2 separate regions of the Homo sapiens genome follow, and region 2 is linked to region 1. Evidence: fine-mapped QTL for protein levels in blood plasma. Region 1 holds a variant in brackets. A gene starts in the other region. All regions are shown on their forward strands.

Region 1 (7,893 bases):
CTGGATATGGTGGAAAGGATGCAGGTGTGCTTCAGGCATCTGGAGTCACAGTGTCCTTCCCTGCCTCCCTTACTAAACAGCTGTGCTTTTCTTGACAAGTTGCTTCCATTCTCCTGTGTCTGTTTATAGTTTTGAGCCGGTTCACTATGGTGATTCTGAGGTCTCTTCCAGTTCTGCCATGGTATGTATCCCATTTTGAAGCTGGAAACCTACCTAGATACAAGGTCGGTAGTGGAGTCAGTTTACATTTTAGGATCCTAAATAAAAAACAGCCAAGTCATTTGGGAGGGGGTCATGTTCTGTTTCTAGCTGTGGCTAGCTAAATAGATTCTAGTTACTGATCTGATTTCTACTCCTCTGGCTGGCAAAATCTGGACCATGTTGCCACTAGAAATCTGAATGCTGTCTCATTAAATGTTTACACTAACTAGGGATTTATTGGTAGAGACCTTAAACACTCTTTGAAGGTTTTCTCCCTGTTCTGATTGAAAGTAAACAATGGCAATAGTCAGATCATTATCAACGAGCTCCTCACCCTCATCAACAAATCCTTGCTTGATGTTATAAACACACACACACACCCACACACACCCCATCCCAAACCACCCAGAACTCTTTAGGCTGATAATTGTTTAATTGAGAAAAACAGGAAACAGAAGGTCCAAACAAAGCCAGAAGGGTTTTGTTTGTTTGTTTGTTTGCTTTGCTCATTTCTTCTCTTCCGTTTTGTTTTGTTTTAACAAGTGGGATGGAAGAGACGTTATTTCCCTGAAAAAATCTGCTGAATTGGCCAGGCGCGGTGGCTCATGCCTATAATCCCAGCACTCTGGGAGGCCGAGGCGGGTGAATCACAAAGTCAGGAGATCGAGACCATCCTGGCTAACCCAGTGAAACCCCATCTCTACTAAAAAAATACAAAAAATTAGCTGGGCGTGGTGGCGGGCGCCTGTAGTCCCAGCTATTTGGGAGGCTGAGGCAGGATAATGGTGTGAACCCGGGAGGCGGAGCTTGCAGTGAGCTGAGATCGTGCCATT[G/A]CACTCTAGCCTGGGCAACAGAGCGAGACTCCATCTCAAAAAAAAAAAAAAAATCTGCTGAATTGACTACCTAGGGAAATAAATGAGAAAATGACAATTTTAATCTGTTATTTGAACTAAGGTACTGCAAAGGTTGAAGGGAGGATCAAATTGAACGATGATTCACTCCTTCCTATAGAAAGACAATATCATTTTAAATCAAAATATCTTAACTGTTTATGAGAGGTCCCAGCTAGAATCACACAGTTCTGTACTCAGCCATGTAACCCTTGGACATTTGGCCAAGGTCCCTCAAATGCAAAGGTGCAAACTTGAGTTAATAAATTTCTTCCACACACCCTGACATAGATCATTCATTTACTTTTAAACAAATGTTTATTTTGTTTCTTCCTCTTTTAAATTACAAGAGAAAAACATTCCCGTAGTATATGTAGTTGGAGGTGAAGCTGGGGCCTCCTGAGTTGAGATATGACTGGCCATGGACTTAGGTACATTTCCTTGCCCCTGCCTGCCCCACCTGTAAACATCCAGTTGCACCTCGAATTGACTTGGGAGATGCAAAACCTTTCCAAGGAAGGCACTCAGTCACATATGATTCAGAAATATGAGAGCATGTCTAGCAAACTGTGGGAAAGGATCAAGAAGGAAGAGACGAGAAACTGGGATCAGCCACAAGGCCCGAGGGTGGTTCCAGGAAGAGCAAACTTTCCCTGGACACTGTCCCAGTTCACTCAGTATGAGTTGGCTCTGGCCAAGCTTCGGTTTGATTACACTGAACAAGCAGGCTCACAAGTCTCTGTAACTTGTTGGGGCAAGAAGGTGTGCATAACACAGAAAGGAGGGAGCGGTATGCCTTTTCACTTCACATCAGCTGTAAGCTATCTCAGCAGGAAATGGCTGAATATGGGAGGCTTCAGCTGTGAGAGGCAAGGTGCAGAGTTGAAAGCTGCCTGTGATCAGGCAGTAATGGCAGCAGGCAACAACTTATCAACTGAGGTGGAGTTTGACAAGGATGGTCGTGGTGGAGCTTGTGCCACAGGGACTAGCCCAGGTTAGCACCAATTGCTGGCTAGAGCCTGTGATCCCTTCTGAGTATTTTCCAGAAATACTTTCAGGAGGAGGTGGAAGGAACCTGGAAAATTGAGTAAGGTCCTGGGTATAAGTGGATGGGAGGTTAACAAGTTAATGTAGCTACATTATTACCCAGGAGTTTATAAAGCCTGGATACATTCAGGATACACAGGCAAGCAGGGAAGCATGGAAAAGTAAAGAACACTTTTCTAAAAGAAAAAAAAAACCCTCCAAAAACTAAATAAGTAAATCACAAAAACAAAACAAAACAACCACTAATAGCAGCTATATTCTCACCTCCTACTTAACCTTTGGATGATATCTCTTGTTTACAGGGGTGAGATCAGACTGTGTGTGTGCATAATTTTGAGTATGGTTGTTTTCTCATAAGACTATATAAAAATGCTGTGTTCTTTAAATCTGTATGAAAATTATACATGGATAGCATGGATATTTTTATAACATTCCCTGTAGAAAATTTGTAAAATATAGAAAAATAAAAAGGAAAAAAAGTACCCATAATCATACCATCTAGAGATCACATTGTCATTTTGGTGTTTCTCTTTCTAGACCTTTTTATGCATAAATATTGATTTCTGAACAATAGAAATCCAGAGAGGAAGCCCCAGTCACTCTCTCCACCCTCACATGTTTCTTGCATCATGAATTTTGGTAGTTTCTCCTATAGAACTTGGCCAATGCTGGTGACTAGACACATGGCGGGTTGACGTGAGGTGCTGTGGTTATTCCAAGAATGATAATTAATACGATACGTCTCCCCCGCCTCCTCCCATCCTTTCCACTTCAAAATATGAGTTTCCTGCAGCATATCATAGGCTGAGGCTATATTCTCTAACTAACCACACTTGGGCATTGGGGGCAGAAGGTAGCGTGTGGGGATTATTTTCATTTGCGTGCCTCTGAAAAGAAAGCTCTTGCACTGGGTGCCTGTTCTTCAGCTCCAGAAGCCCTTGGTTCTGAAAAGTGGATTTCCATGGTGACTGCTCTTGGTGCTGTTACAAACACGGTGGTTGTCTAGGCCAGGGTCAACCAGTCCTTGATGGGGCTTGAGGTCAGCAGGGTAGACTCAGCAAGGTAGACTTCAAGATGGCAGCAATGACCCTGTCTGCTGCCCAGACATTAGTCTCTGGCAATCATTTTCTGCAAACTGCAAATAGCATAAAGGATCATTTATGGAGATCCGTGGAGAGGAAGCCCTTCTCCTTTTTCCTCCCCATCTATGATGTCACAGTGACAGGCCATTCCTTTATCATAAAACTTTCTCAGAGGGACACAGATTTCAGGGGCTAAGCCCATATTTGTTGTTCATGTTTGCTGGTCTACAGGCTATTTGTGAAGGTCCAATCCAATGTTATGAAGCCTTCCTTAACCCTTACACCCTATAATCCTTGCAGAGTGTATCTTCTGCAAATGTTCACCAGACAAAGTGGAGCCTGTATTCAATTTTAAGAAATTAATACTTATGTTGAATATACTTTTCCAAAGTCTACACAGAAGATTCAAACTTATTTTCCCTTTGGAAAATTTCTGATGAAGAAAGTGACACCTTCAGGAGACTTTTCAGCAGTAATTAGAACGCTACTATAAAAATAGCATTGTATTGTATTGAAAAAATGTATTGTAAAAAAAAGTAGGTGCTTCAATTTATTGAGTACCTCCTTCATGCCTGGGTTCAAAATCAGGTTTTACCTTTTACTAGTTTTGTAATCTTGAACAAATCTCTTAACTTCGCCTGAGCTTTAGTTTGTTCATCTGTAATATGGGGTAATTATACTTACATAATAGAATTGTTATGAGAATTGAAACCAGGCAATACTTTTCAAAGTTGCTGGTACACAGTAATTGCTCAATATCTGTAATTCTCCTAGCTTTCTAGCACTCTCAATGAATTCTTCTGCATGCCTAATGTACATGTGTTCATATGTCAATATGCAATTAGGAAAAATGTATGCAAGTGGGAAGATCTTAAGCCTTATATGAAATTTCCATTTTTATAGTAGAATTGAAAAAGAAATTTGATTATATATACAGACAATTGCATGAGTCAGTTGAGTAAAGAACTGGTTGATTCAATCTTAAAATTAGTCCAACTTGTAATGTAAGCAAATTGATGGAGCTACTTGTGTGTGGAGTAACAGCTTTACTCTGTTTATGCTGCAAAGTTAAGAAAGGTTAGGAAATTCTGGCTCCAAATTGGTGAACATAGCAGTATTCCAGTCTCTCGTGTAGACTTAAAGCTAAAGGTATGATTACAGTTTCATTAATATTTTTTTCTTACAAAAGAAAATCTTTTCTAAATGTGTCCTACAATAAACCTGACTTTACTGGTCATCTAATAGTAGCCATAATTTTCATAATTAGTTGCAAATAAAACAAGAGTCTGCCTCATCCATTTCCAAAAGAAAAATTTCCGACTGATTGGGATAACCAAACTTACATTCCACAGGATATGCAAACTACATTTCCCTAGCAAATAGTTACTACTCTATGTCTTTTGCACAATTTATACTTTTCTGAGATCCTTAGCCTTTCATTTCCTAGTCAGCTGGCAGAGTTGGTGCTGCAGGATGCGCTGTGCATGCACAGTGTACATCACAAGGTGTAGATAGGTTAACCCTGTGGACATCCCACTGTGGAGGGAAGAGCCTACAGACCTGGGTGCTAGCCGCCCCACGGCCAGCCTCCAAAGCCTTGTCTGAACTTGAGTACATTATTTCTTGTCTCCTCGTCTGTAAAAAGTGGTTGTGGTGGTGGGGGGAGGATCTGACGTTCCTTGCAGCTCATAATTCTCTACTATTTAATATACAATGAATTAAAATATATATTAGAAGTCAAAAACTGAGTTGGTTTATTTTCAGCAATTTTGCAGTCATAGTTCCAGGGGTTTTCATCGAGAAAATCATAAATTAAAATAGCACTGTTTGTTTGTTTTGTCTGTCAAAGATACCTCAATTTGTACATGGACCATCCACAGGCAGAGATTGGCAGTTTGCTTTTCAATTGTTTTATCATGAACAGCTGTGTCTATCTGATAACTTCTTTATTACAGATTTTACCCATGACATGCCCGTGCCCCAGGAATAGGCAGAATGCCAGTCCTTTGTATTCTCACTTATTGTCAACACAGGAATGCCACATAACTAAAAGCAAAACATTTCAAAGATGTGAAAGTTCACCAGGACTAGCTACATCTGGAATACAAAACGGGAGTGTTCAGTGACTTAGGGCCTGGCTTTGGGTTGAGCCTGACTCTACCCTTGTCGCCTGCATATTCGTGGTGCCTACCACATCTGTGAAGGCTGTTCATTCACTCAATAAGTATGTAGTGAACCACAAGTATTAGTATTAGTGGCTACTTGGGAACCACATGCTAGACCCAGAGGTATACTAATGAGCAGAAGCAGACACAGCTCTGATACAGCTACCCTCACCCTCAAGAATTCATGAGTCAAGAACTGTAACTCCAACCTGCAACAACAAAGCAGGGAAGATGGCTACAGTTACCAAAACAGCATGTTACTGGTATGGAAACAGATACATAGACCAATGGAACAGAACAGAGGCCTCAGAAATAACACTACACATCTACAACCACCTGATCTTTGACAAACCTGACAAAAACAAGCAATGGGGAAAGGATTCCCTATTTAATAAATGGTGCTGGGAAAACTGGCTAGCCATATGCAGAAAACAGAAACTGGGCCCCTTCCTTACAGCTTCTACAAAAATTAACTCAAGATGGATTAAAGACTTAAACGTAAAACCTAAAAGCATAAAAACCCCAGAAGAAAACCTAGGCATACCATTCAAGATGGCATGGGCAAAGACTTCATGACTAAAACACCAAAAGCAATTGCAACAAAAGTCAAAATTGACAAATGGGATCTAATTAAACTAAAGAGCTTCTGCACAGCAGAAGAAACTATCATCAGAGTGAACAGGGAACCTACAGAATGGGAGAAAATTTTTGCAATCTACCCATCTGACAAAGGTCTAATATGCAGAATCTACAAGGAATTTGTTTCTTGTAAAACAAATTGACAAGAAAAAAACCACATCAAAAAGTGGGCAAAAGATATGAACAGATACTTCTCAAAAGAAGACATTTATGTGGCCAACAAACATGAAAAAAAGCTCATCATCACTGGTCATTAGAGAAATGCAAATCAAAACCATAATGAGATACCATCTCACTCCAGTTAGAATGGTGGTCATTAAAAAGTCAGGAAACAACAGATGCTGGAAGGATGTGGAGAAATAGGAATGCTTTTACACTGTTGGTGGGAGTATAAATTAGTTCAACCAGTGTGGAAGACAGTGTGGCAATTCCTCAAGGAACCAGAAATACCATTTGACTCAGCAATCCCATTACTGGGTATATACCCAAAGGATTATAAATCATTCTACTATAAAGACACATGCACACATATGTTTATTCCAGCACCATTTACAATAGCAAAGACTTGGAACCAACCCAAATGCTCATCAGTGATAGACTGGATAAAGAAAATGTGGCACATATACACCATGGAATACTATGCAGCCATTAAAAAGAATGAATTCATGTCCTTTGCAGAGACATGGATGAAGCTGGAAGCCATCATTCTCAGCAAACTAACACAGGAACAGAAAACCAAACACTGCATGTTCTCACTCATAAGTGGGAGTTGAACAGTGAGAGCACATGGACACAGGGAGGGCAACACACACACTGGGGCCTGTCGGGGGTGGGAGGCTAGGGGAGGGAGAGCATTAGAACAAATCCTAATGCCTGTGGGGCTTACAACCTAGATGATGGGTTGATGGGTGCAGCAAACCACCATGGCACATGTATACCTATGTAACAAACCTGCACGTTCTGTACACGTATCCCAGAACTTAAAGTAAAATAAAAAAATTTAAAAATAAAGAAATCTGTTTGCCAGAATTCACAAAGAGCAATAGACCTCATGTGAGTTATGAATCTGAACTTCATCCTGCTGTGTGCTATTGGATAAAGACTCTAAGAGCTACATTACAGATTTTTTCGACAGGAAGTATCACAGTAACAAGGCCCTATTTAAAGGCTGTTGCTACTGCTGTGGAACAGATTTACCCATTTGTGTTTGAAAGCAGGAAAGAAATTTTATCATTCACCACTTAATTGGTTAGAATCTCTTACTGTGCACCTTTTAAAACCTGCTGCACATTGGACTCAAAAGGAAAACTGAACCAACGGTAATTGAGGAAATAGACTCTTTTATTTATTCATGGCTACAGTGTAAGCTCCAGTCCCTTTGGATTTTATTCCAAACCTTGTTATAATATAAAAAAGGAAGTTTACAAGACATGTCATTGCTGCTTTTACAAAAGGACATTCTATTTATTTTCGCAGGAATTCTCATGTCCCCATAAGCAGAGCTGTCACAGTGTGCACTACCTTAGGTTGTTTTATTGTTGTCATTGTTATTTTTTTCCATTTTGAGCTAATGTGTTTTATCTGTGAATAGTCTTTTACATTTTTGTATGCTGAAAATGGGCACCAAAGAACCTGTAAAAATTATCTTTTTCAATTGAATGTGCACAAATAAAAGTTTGGAAAAGGAAAACAAAAGAACTACAAAGCATTTAGCAGAAAGCTTTCATGAAGAGTTGCAATGGCTGATATTATAAAATACACATACTTTTAAAAACAAAAAATCCCTCAGGAGTTTTGTTGCCCACATCTGCTAGTAACTAGTGAAGCCAGTTGTGTAACTGCACTTAGTTTACACAATTTCTTGAACTT
Region 2 (8,864 bases), not on the chromosome of region 1:
CCGACCCAGGATGGCTCTGAACGAACACTGTTACTAACACACACACTGGGCTGCCTTAAGCAACTGTTCTTAAAAGTCAACACAGTTGTACCCATGGGACACTAAAAGCAGGGAAAAGATAAAGCAGGGAGACAAAGCAACTGGAGAAAAAATACATGAAATCATTCCCAGGCTTTGCAATATATATGAATAGACAGACGGACGGGCGAGTAGACCTTTAGCACAATGACCTTTAGCACAATCCTCCAGGGTAGGGAAAATGTGTGGCATGCTGGAGCCAGGGCAGGGAGAGACGGGCTCTGGAGAGCCCAAAGGCTGAGAAAATCAAAGGGGCCACGAGGTGGGGGGTCTCCTCAGAGCTCTGGCTGAGCCCAAGGCTCCAGCAGTACTTCCCTTTCTCACCAGCACTTCCCATTTCATTCTAGGTGGAAATATTGAAACAGGTGCTACAGCAATTCAACTGAGGAAGTTATGGATAGATTCTATTGCTTATTATCTTTTTTTTTTTTTTTTTTGAGATGGGGTCTTGCTTTGTTGCCCAGGCTGGAGTGCAGTGGCATGATCACAACTCACTGCAGCCTTGACCTCCTGGGCTCAAGCGATCCTCCCACCTCAGCCTCTTGAGTAGATGGGACTACAGGTATGCAATCACCACGCCCAGCTAATTTTATTTTTATTTTTAGTAGAGATGACTACTATGTTGCCCAGGCTGGTCTTGAACTCCTGGGCTCAAGAGATCCTCCTGCCTTAGCCTCTCAAAGTGTTAGGATTACAGGCGTGAGCCACTACATTTGACCTTAATATCTTTGGGTTATATGTTTTATGAGGTTTTTTTGTTTTGTTTGTTCGTTTGTTTTTAAGAGACAGTGTCTCTTGTTGCCCAAGCTGGTGTGCAGTGGTGCGATCATGGCTGACTGCAGCCTTGAACTCCTGGGCTACAGTGATCCCCCCACCTCAGTCTCCTGAGTAGCTGGGGCTAAAGGCATGCAACACTACGCTCAGCTAATTTTTTGTTTTCATAGAGACAGGGTCTCGCAATGTTGCCCAGCCTGGTCTTGACTTCCTGAGCTCAAGCAATCTTCCTGCCTCAGCCTCCCAGAGTACTGGGATTACAGGTGTGGGCCACCGTACCCAGACATGTGTGCTTTTCTGACCCAAGGATGATCCAGAAGCAGAAGTCCCTACTGTAAAATTGCTCTCCCAATCCTGGGATATAATTTTGAGCCCAGAGAACAAACCCATGAATCCATGAGAGGACCGCAAAGCCAGGTCCTCAGAACTTCTCTGCAGTCCCAGGAGAGCATCCTGCGCTCCTGCCCCTGTAAATTTCCCTTCTTTTTCCCCGTTGGTACACATTAGACCTGTGATTCTCCACAAGTGCACGGGAATCACTGAAAACCTTGTCAGATACAGCCAGTATGGGAGGGTAAGATTCTGCATTTCCAACAAGCCCCCAAAGTGCTCCTCTGATCTCACTTTGGGCAGCAAGACCCCAAGAGGGCATAACGCAGGACTCTGACATTCGTTACTCAGTCTTCAAATTCAGAAATTGCAAACAAGCACCCCTAGATATGTCTTTTTGTCCCCATGGAGTATGAGAGGCAGTGGGAGGGCAGGCCTTGTGAGCCCTGCTCACATAAGGGACTGGAGGAGCACTCAGGCCTGGGGGTCCCTGCTCTGGCTACCCTGTGCCCTGGGTCTCCCAAAACCTGGTCTCCTGCTTTCCAGGCCCTGCCCAGCTCCTTTGCTTGCTGACAGGTTGAATGCCTCCTCCTTCTCCCCAGAAGAGAACCCCCTTCCACTATTCCAGTGGTCAAGATTTGTTTACATACAAATGTCTAAACGATAAAATGGCATTATAACAGTGTCAGGACTGAACAGGCAGAAGCCACCTGGAAATGGGGAGACGGAGCGCAGAACCTGATTTATCCAGTCACCATGGTCCTGAAAAGCTATCACACAAACAAAATGACATAGATAGCTAGATAGAGATATACAGAGAGGTTTTTTTTTTTTTTTTTTTTTTGAGACAGAGTCTGCTCCGTCACCTAGGCTGGAGTGTAGCGGCGCGATCTCGGCTCACTGCAGCCTCCGCCTCCCACGTTCAAGCGATTCTCCTGCCTCAACCTCCCGAATAGCTGGGACTACAGACATGCACCACCACACCTGGCTAATTTTTGTATTTTTAGTAGAGATGGGGTTTCACCATGTTGGCCAGGCTGGTCTTGAACTCCTGGCCTCAGGTGATCTGCCTGCCTTGGCCTCTCAAAGTGCTGGGATTATGGGCGTGAGCCACTACGTCCAGCACAAAATGAGATATATTTGAAGTACATATTAAAGTAACCAAAGGAAATAATTTTACAGTAAAATCTTACAAAAAGCTCAAAATCCTGGTGTAAAATATCTAATCACCTTTGAGCTTAGTTCTGGTTTATATCCAGCTTTTCATCTGTCAATTATATTGGAAAAAGAGAGGCACTGCCCAGGTCTCAGGAGGGCCCCTTTGGAGGCTGCAAGGAACCTCCCTTTCCCCGGGCGTGAAGACCCTGAGCCCTGCCATGCTTGGTCTGCAAGGCTGGCTTCCAGGCCAGCACCCAGACACCACTCCCAAAACAGGTTTTCTGCAGTTTTGGGTCTGCACTCTCAAAACAGTTTCTGCACAGCAAGAAAATGCATGTAGAAGTGGAAAGAAGGAAGGCAGGAAACAGATACATAACCACTTTAGCTCTACTGGCTTCCCCCCCCAAAAAAAACCTAGCTTCCGACCTGCTCCGAATGACTTGAGGTGAAAATCTACAGAGGCTAAAGAGATGTCCTTGCAAAAATGCTACTTCCAGCTCTACCTGCTCCAGCCAGGCCAGCATCAATGTGAGAGGAGAGAGAGAAATCAATTAGGCAAATAGTTAGGGCAAGGGTCCTTGGCAGAATTCCCTTCTAACAAAAAGCAGCCTAAGAAGTCGTTGCCCTTTCAGGAAACACAGATAAGGAAGGCAAGCTCTAACACAGAAAGCGGGTCCCCTGTGTGACATACAGACATATGGTGGGCCCCAGTAAGCACAGTCCTCTCCCTTCTTAGAAATACTCAAGACACGGCCGGCCACGGTGGCTCACGCTTGTAATCCCAGCACTTTGGGAAGCCGAGGTGGGCAGATCACGAGGTCAAGAGATCGAGACTATCCTGGCCAACATGGTGAAAACCCATCTCTACTAAAAAAATACAAAAATTAGCCAGGTGTCATGGTGCTCGCCTGTAATCCCAGCTACTTGGGAGGCTGAGGCAGGAGAACCACTTGAACCCGGGAGGTGGAGGTTGCAGTGAGCTGAGATCACACCACTGCACTCCAGCCTGGCAGCAGAGTGGGACTCCGTCTCAAAAAAAAAAGAAAAAAGAAATACTCAGACACAGAGGCTTGCATGGCACTGATAAGAAGAGCTACCCTGGACCAGGCATGTCTACCTTGGAGTGTTCTTCCCCCCCACCACCCAACCTTTTTCACACATGCACAGTAGGAAGAAATAAGCAACATGGAGTAGTAACTCAGGCTAAGAAGCCCACATGTGCACTAGAAACAGTGGGGCGGGGGACTCAGAAATTCGCACCTTATGTAAATGAAGCACCCCTCCCACCAGCTTTTCTATAAAAACCCTTGCATTTCACTGTAAAATGGCAACCCATCTTTCTGGGACCCCTCTCTGATCCAGAGAGCTTTCTTTCTTTTGCTTATTAAACTTCTGCTCTAACCTACCCTCTGGAGTGTCTGCGTCCTTGATTTCCTTGGCCATGAGACCCAGAACTTCAGTGATATCTCAGACAATGAGGCAGGTTTCACTGAGACACAAGCCCAGGGTTCTGCAGAATGGGAGGGCCAGCAGCTATCACTGCGTGTGTGAGGGCAGGCAGAGGAAGTCACTGTGTTTTAATAGTCCAGCACCACGGGTAGAGATGTTGTGGCTGACTCCATCCAAGGTTCAATTTCTTTGTAGTAATCATTTCAGAAGTTAGAGCATTAACAGGCTCTTGTTGGGGAAGAAAGGTTAGTAACTCCATCTCCTGAGCCCTTGCTAAAAAGCTCAGCTTCCTGAATTCTCCAGGCTCACCAGATTGAGAGGGAAGCCCACCCTGCTCCTTCTCCCACCGCAAGGCTGCCTTTGTCTGTAAATGACAGGGAAGTGGGTGAGGAGGGAGGATGGGGACAGACCTTAGGGGGTGGGAGTGTGGCTCCCCCTCCCCCACTGTATCACACCTATTTCACACTCAGATTTATCCACATACCAGGCCTTGATCACAGGAAGCCCATCTGCCAGCCACAGGGAAGGCAAATGCCAACTGGAAGCCCCGGTTTCTTGCAGGCGCCCAGGCTGCTCTGACAGGTACAGAGAGACGGAGACAAGCCCATCTCACCGAGAGCGGCCTAGCTTTCTGAGTTTGGACCAGATTGTAAGAGATAAGGGAGAGGAAGGCTTCAGATAGCTATGAAGAGAGCTATCTGACCTCCAAGTACCCTTTTCTTTAACAAAAAATTAGATCTGGCTCTTGTCAACATTGACCTCCCACCTCTCCATACCCCAGCGCAAAGGCAGTAGGTGGATCCCACCAGCAAACAGTTTTGGATTAGCTCATAGTTGTTGTTTTTTTAAAACAAATTAGTTGCCAATATTTAAAAATCAGGAGATTTTGCATGCACCTCAGATTCCTGATTTCTCCTGAAAAATCAGAAGACCAGATCACATTGGACCTGCCATTCTGTGTAGCAATGGAGGCCAGGGCTGAGCAGGGGCCGTCCCCTGCCCACCCCCATACAGCAGGGCCCTGCCCTCCCTACCCCAGCTCCTCCTGGCAGCATGCACCTTACCTATCTACTTGATCAATAAACAGATCACTTCAAAGCTTCTCAAAGTATCCCTCTTTCTTTTTTTCTTTCTTTCCTTCCTTCCTTCCTTCCTTTTCTCTTTCTCTTTCGTTCTCTCTCTCTCTCTTTCTCTTTCCCTCTCCCCTTCCTTCCTGCTTTTTGTTGTTGCTGGTGTTGTTGTTGTTTTTTCCAGAAACGCAGTCTCCCTGTGTTGCCTAGGCTGGTCGGGAACTGGCCTCAAGCAATTCTTCCGCCTCGGCCTCCCGAGTAGCTGGAACTACAGGTGCTATTCCAAGATGGTGAAACCCCGTCTCTACTAAAAAATACAAAAATTGGTCGGGGTGGCTCACGTCTGTAATCCCAGCATTGCAGAAGGCTGAGGCAGGTGGATCGCAAGGTCAGGAGTTTGAGATTAGCCTGGCCGATATGGTGAAACTCCGTCTCTACTAAAAATACAAAAAAATTAGCCAGGCTTGGTGGTGTCGCCTGTAATCCCAGCTACTAGGGAGGCTGAGGCAGGGGAATTGCTTGAACGAGGGAGGTGGAGGTTGCAGTGAGCCGAGATCGCGCCATTGCACTCCAGCCTGGACAACAGAGCAAGACTGTCTAAACAAAAGCTCAACAAACTACCTGCCATCCCCAAAACTAATCTCACCTCCTAAAGCATTAACGACCCTTCCTGACCAAATCTAAACTAGCGCCCAGATTTTCTTCCCATATGGCTCAGCCCAGCTCCGCTGCCCCACAGGTGTCCTGTCAGGATCCGCTTCACATTTATAATACCTAGCACCCCACCCCCAGCCCCGCCCCTGCCCCACCAGCCACCCCCACTCTACCCCACCCCTACCCATCACATTCCGCACCCCACCCCCGCCAAACCCACATCCCCACCCCACCCAACCTCACCCACTCCCACCACATCCACCACCCGCACCCCACCCCCACCCACCACACCCATGCCTACGCCACTCCTGGGTGACAGCGAGCCAGGGCCCGGGACTCTAGTCCCAGCTCTGCTGCTTACTTGTGTGACTTCAGCCTCTCCATGCCTCAGTTTCTCCATAGGGACAATGACTACACTAACAGTGTCCACCCCGGCACCGGGAGGGCCGGGCTCCCGGCAGGGCGGGGACCCTCTCCCCAAGGCACTCCCGGGTCTCCAGGCCTGCTCTTGGGGTGCCCCCTCCTCTCGCGGGGCGCGGCCTGGGAGGCGCCCCGCCCCGGCTCCGGGCGCTCCTTTACCTGGGGGAGCGGAGGTCTACGCGGCGCGCTCGGCGATCAGACGCGGCTGCAGCCCGGGCCTGGCAGGCCCCGGGCTCCCCGCCCAGCTCCCCAGCCCCGCGGAGGGTCGCGCAGGCCTTGGTGGCGGCCCCGGCGCTGGCCCCGCCCTCCGTCCCACCTTCCGGCTGCGCCGGGCCTTCCGGGAAGCCACGCGCCGGGCCAGCTCCTGGCTCCGAGCTGCGCCCGGCCTTAGGGGGAGCCGGGGGTCGCTGCTGGGCACCCCCTCCCCGGTCCTGGCCCACCCCGCCGCTGTCACCGGGGCCCTGGCTTGGGTTGCGGGTGGCGTAAGGAGACGAGGCGCCCGGAGAAGAGTCCTGGGAACCGCAAGGCCGCGCTCCCGCAGGCCCAGCCCTGCCTTTCTCCCACGCGCACGCATGATCACATCCGGGCCCCGCGCACCTGCCTCCAGGACCGCGGGGACCTCCCGGAGACCTCCCTCCCTTTGGCCTGGAGGACCCCTCTCTCCCCGCAGCCTGGGCACAGAAGAGAGCACAGGGGCATCTGGAGGTCAAGGGTGCTGCGTCAGTATTTGGTGAATGTGTGGGCCGGAGCCAGATTTCCTCTGTTCCAGAGCCTGCTCTGGAGCCTCTGGGTCTGGGGGTTGCAAAAGGAGAAGCAGGTTGGGTGGGACTCGTAATCCCAGCTGCCAGTGAGGCTGAGGAGGGAGGATTGCTTGAGCCCAGCAGTTCGAGCGTGGGCAACACAGTGACATCCCATCTCTACAAATAATAATAAAAATTAGGCCGGGTGGGTGAGTCATACCTGTGACCTACAGCATTTTGGGAGGCTGAAGCGGGAGGATTGCTTGAGCCCAGGAGTTCGAGGCTGCAGTGAACTATGATCCCACCACTGCACTTCAACCTGGGTGACAGAGTGAGACCGTCTCTTAAAGAAAGAAAAAAAAGGAAAAGAACTGGCTTTGCTCTTAGGAGTCTTGGATGGGGACCAAAGCTGAGGCAAGGCAGCCTCTTAGGAAGGTGCAAAGGGCATGAGGCTGGGGTTGCAGAACTGCCTGGGAATACTACTTTATTGAGGCCTGTGGAAAGCTGTCCCTACTCTTGTCATGCAAGGTCTGGCCTTGAACCATCTCAAATCCAAAAGTGGCTTCTGGGGGGCTCTATAGAGAATTAATCCTAACAGGAACCCTGCAAAGCAGGCATGGTTGTCACTGCTATATTACAGATGGGAAGCTCTAAACACAGGCTGCTCTGCCCAAGGCCATCCTGGTTAGAAAGTTTCAGGGCCCAAACTCCAGCCTCGGTCTCGGTATCTCAAAGTCTCCGCCTGTGACCAGCACTCTGCCTGCTTTCCAGGGTGCCATGGGCACCCAGAGGACGGACCCTTTTCCATTTTTAAAAGAATGGAACAAACGCTCTTAATACCAAGCTTCCCCAGGCCTTGGCTGGGATAAAACAACCCCATTTATTCCTGAATCGGAGCTTTTGCTTGAGTTTGGGTGACTTTCAAGAGGGAAAGTGAACTGAGGCCAGGGGAACTCAGCTTGCTGCCTTCCTGGGGCCTGAGTGTGGCGCTCCCGTTTCTCTGCGGGCAGCTCCCTCTGGCGGCACATTGCAGAACTGGCCTGCAGACTCCTCCCCCAGAGATAGTGGGGAAGAGGGCCTGTGTAGGGAAAGATGCTGGGAGTGAAAGAAGCTTCAAAGTCCAGGCCCTCCAGAGAAGGCAAGCATGTAAGAGGTTCATGCAGCCCAGCGCGGTGGCTCACACCTGTAATCCCAGCACTTTGGGAGGCCGAGGCGGGCAGATCACCTGAGGCCAGGACTTTGAGACCAGCCTGGGCAACATGGTGAAACCCCATCTCCACTAAACATGGAAAAATGAGCCAGACATGGTTGGTGCAAGCCTGTAGTCCCAGCTACTCGGGAGGTTGAGGCAGGAGAACCGCTTGGACCCGGCAGATGGAGGTTGCAGTGAGCCGAGATCGCGCCATTGCATGCAAATCTGCAACCCATCAGCCTCCTGGGCCTCATTCTGATACGAATGCAGGCATAACATGACCGCACACTCTGAACCCCAGAGATGGAGCACACAGTGCCTCATGCTCCTAAAGGCAACTGCGGCCTCCTGCACAGTGAGCAAGGCGTGCCGTGGGGTCTCGGTGGTGGCGCGGAAATGGCACTGGCCCAGCACACAGCGATGCTTTATGCTGCTTACAGTGACCTAGGGAAAGTTCTTCCACGTCTCCGTGCCTCAGTTTCCTCATCTGGGAAATGGCAACAAGAGTAGTACTTATCCTATAGGGTTGTTCTCAACATAAAAGGAGGTAATATATATGAATCTAGATTATTCTTGTTTACATTACAGAATGTGAAAATGAGCGGCTTCTCCAAAGTCCCATGAGCCTCATGGGCCCAAGGTAGTGGGAAATCCAGTTCTACCCCCACCTTGACAAAACATTCTCTTGCTGATGGGCCCAACAATGCCCTAGGGTGCTAGGTGGTGTTCACACGGCCAGCCAGAGTCAAAACTCAGACGGGGCCAGCGTTCTATGCCCTCACTTTCTCCCAAAGCTGAGTGCACCAGCTCCTAAAACTTCCATGGCTCCTTCAGGCTAAAGCCACCCACCTAGACCAGGGCTGGATGATCCGCAATGTGGGCCACACCCAAAAACCCTATAGCTTCTTTTGTTGTTTCTTTTTTTTTTTTTTTTTTTTTTTTTTTTTTGAGACGGAGTCTCGCTCTGTGGCCCAGGTGGGAGTGCAGTGGCGCAATCTC

Alleles and levels. Alleles are on the strand shown, and positions count from the first base shown. The strength of an association depends on the size of the effect and on how common the allele is.
With allele A in place of G in region 1, the plasma level of the protein whose gene starts at base 6,229 in region 2 is lower (weak association).

The links. A credible set is the group of variants that fine-mapping cannot tell apart. PIP is the posterior inclusion probability: the model's chance that the variant is causal. Protein levels are from antibody-based Olink assays in UK Biobank. Linkage for the fine-mapping came from a reference panel and not from the study's own genotypes, which makes the PIPs less certain.
Region 2: it holds the start of C19orf12, and the variant in region 1 is the best candidate, but not a certain one, in a credible set for the plasma level of the C19orf12 protein (UK Biobank, PIP 0.83).

What each region holds. Positions count from the first base shown.
Region 1 is chr3:172,515,193-172,523,085 of GRCh38, forward strand. All of the region lies in intron 1 of TNFSF10 (TNF superfamily member 10), which reads right to left. It also overlaps the pseudogene TBPL1P1. Among named protein-coding and RNA genes, the nearest start is that of TNFSF10, 4.3 kb to the right of the region's middle. The variant G/A (reference allele first, on the strand shown) is at 1,035.
Region 2 is chr19:29,709,033-29,717,896 of GRCh38, forward strand. It overlaps C19orf12 (chromosome 19 open reading frame 12), which reads right to left and starts at 6,229. Exons shown (of 3, transcript NM_031448.6): 1 at 6,093-6,229. RefSeq lists a silencer at 5,764-6,553 and enhancers at 6,724-6,823, 7,369-7,588.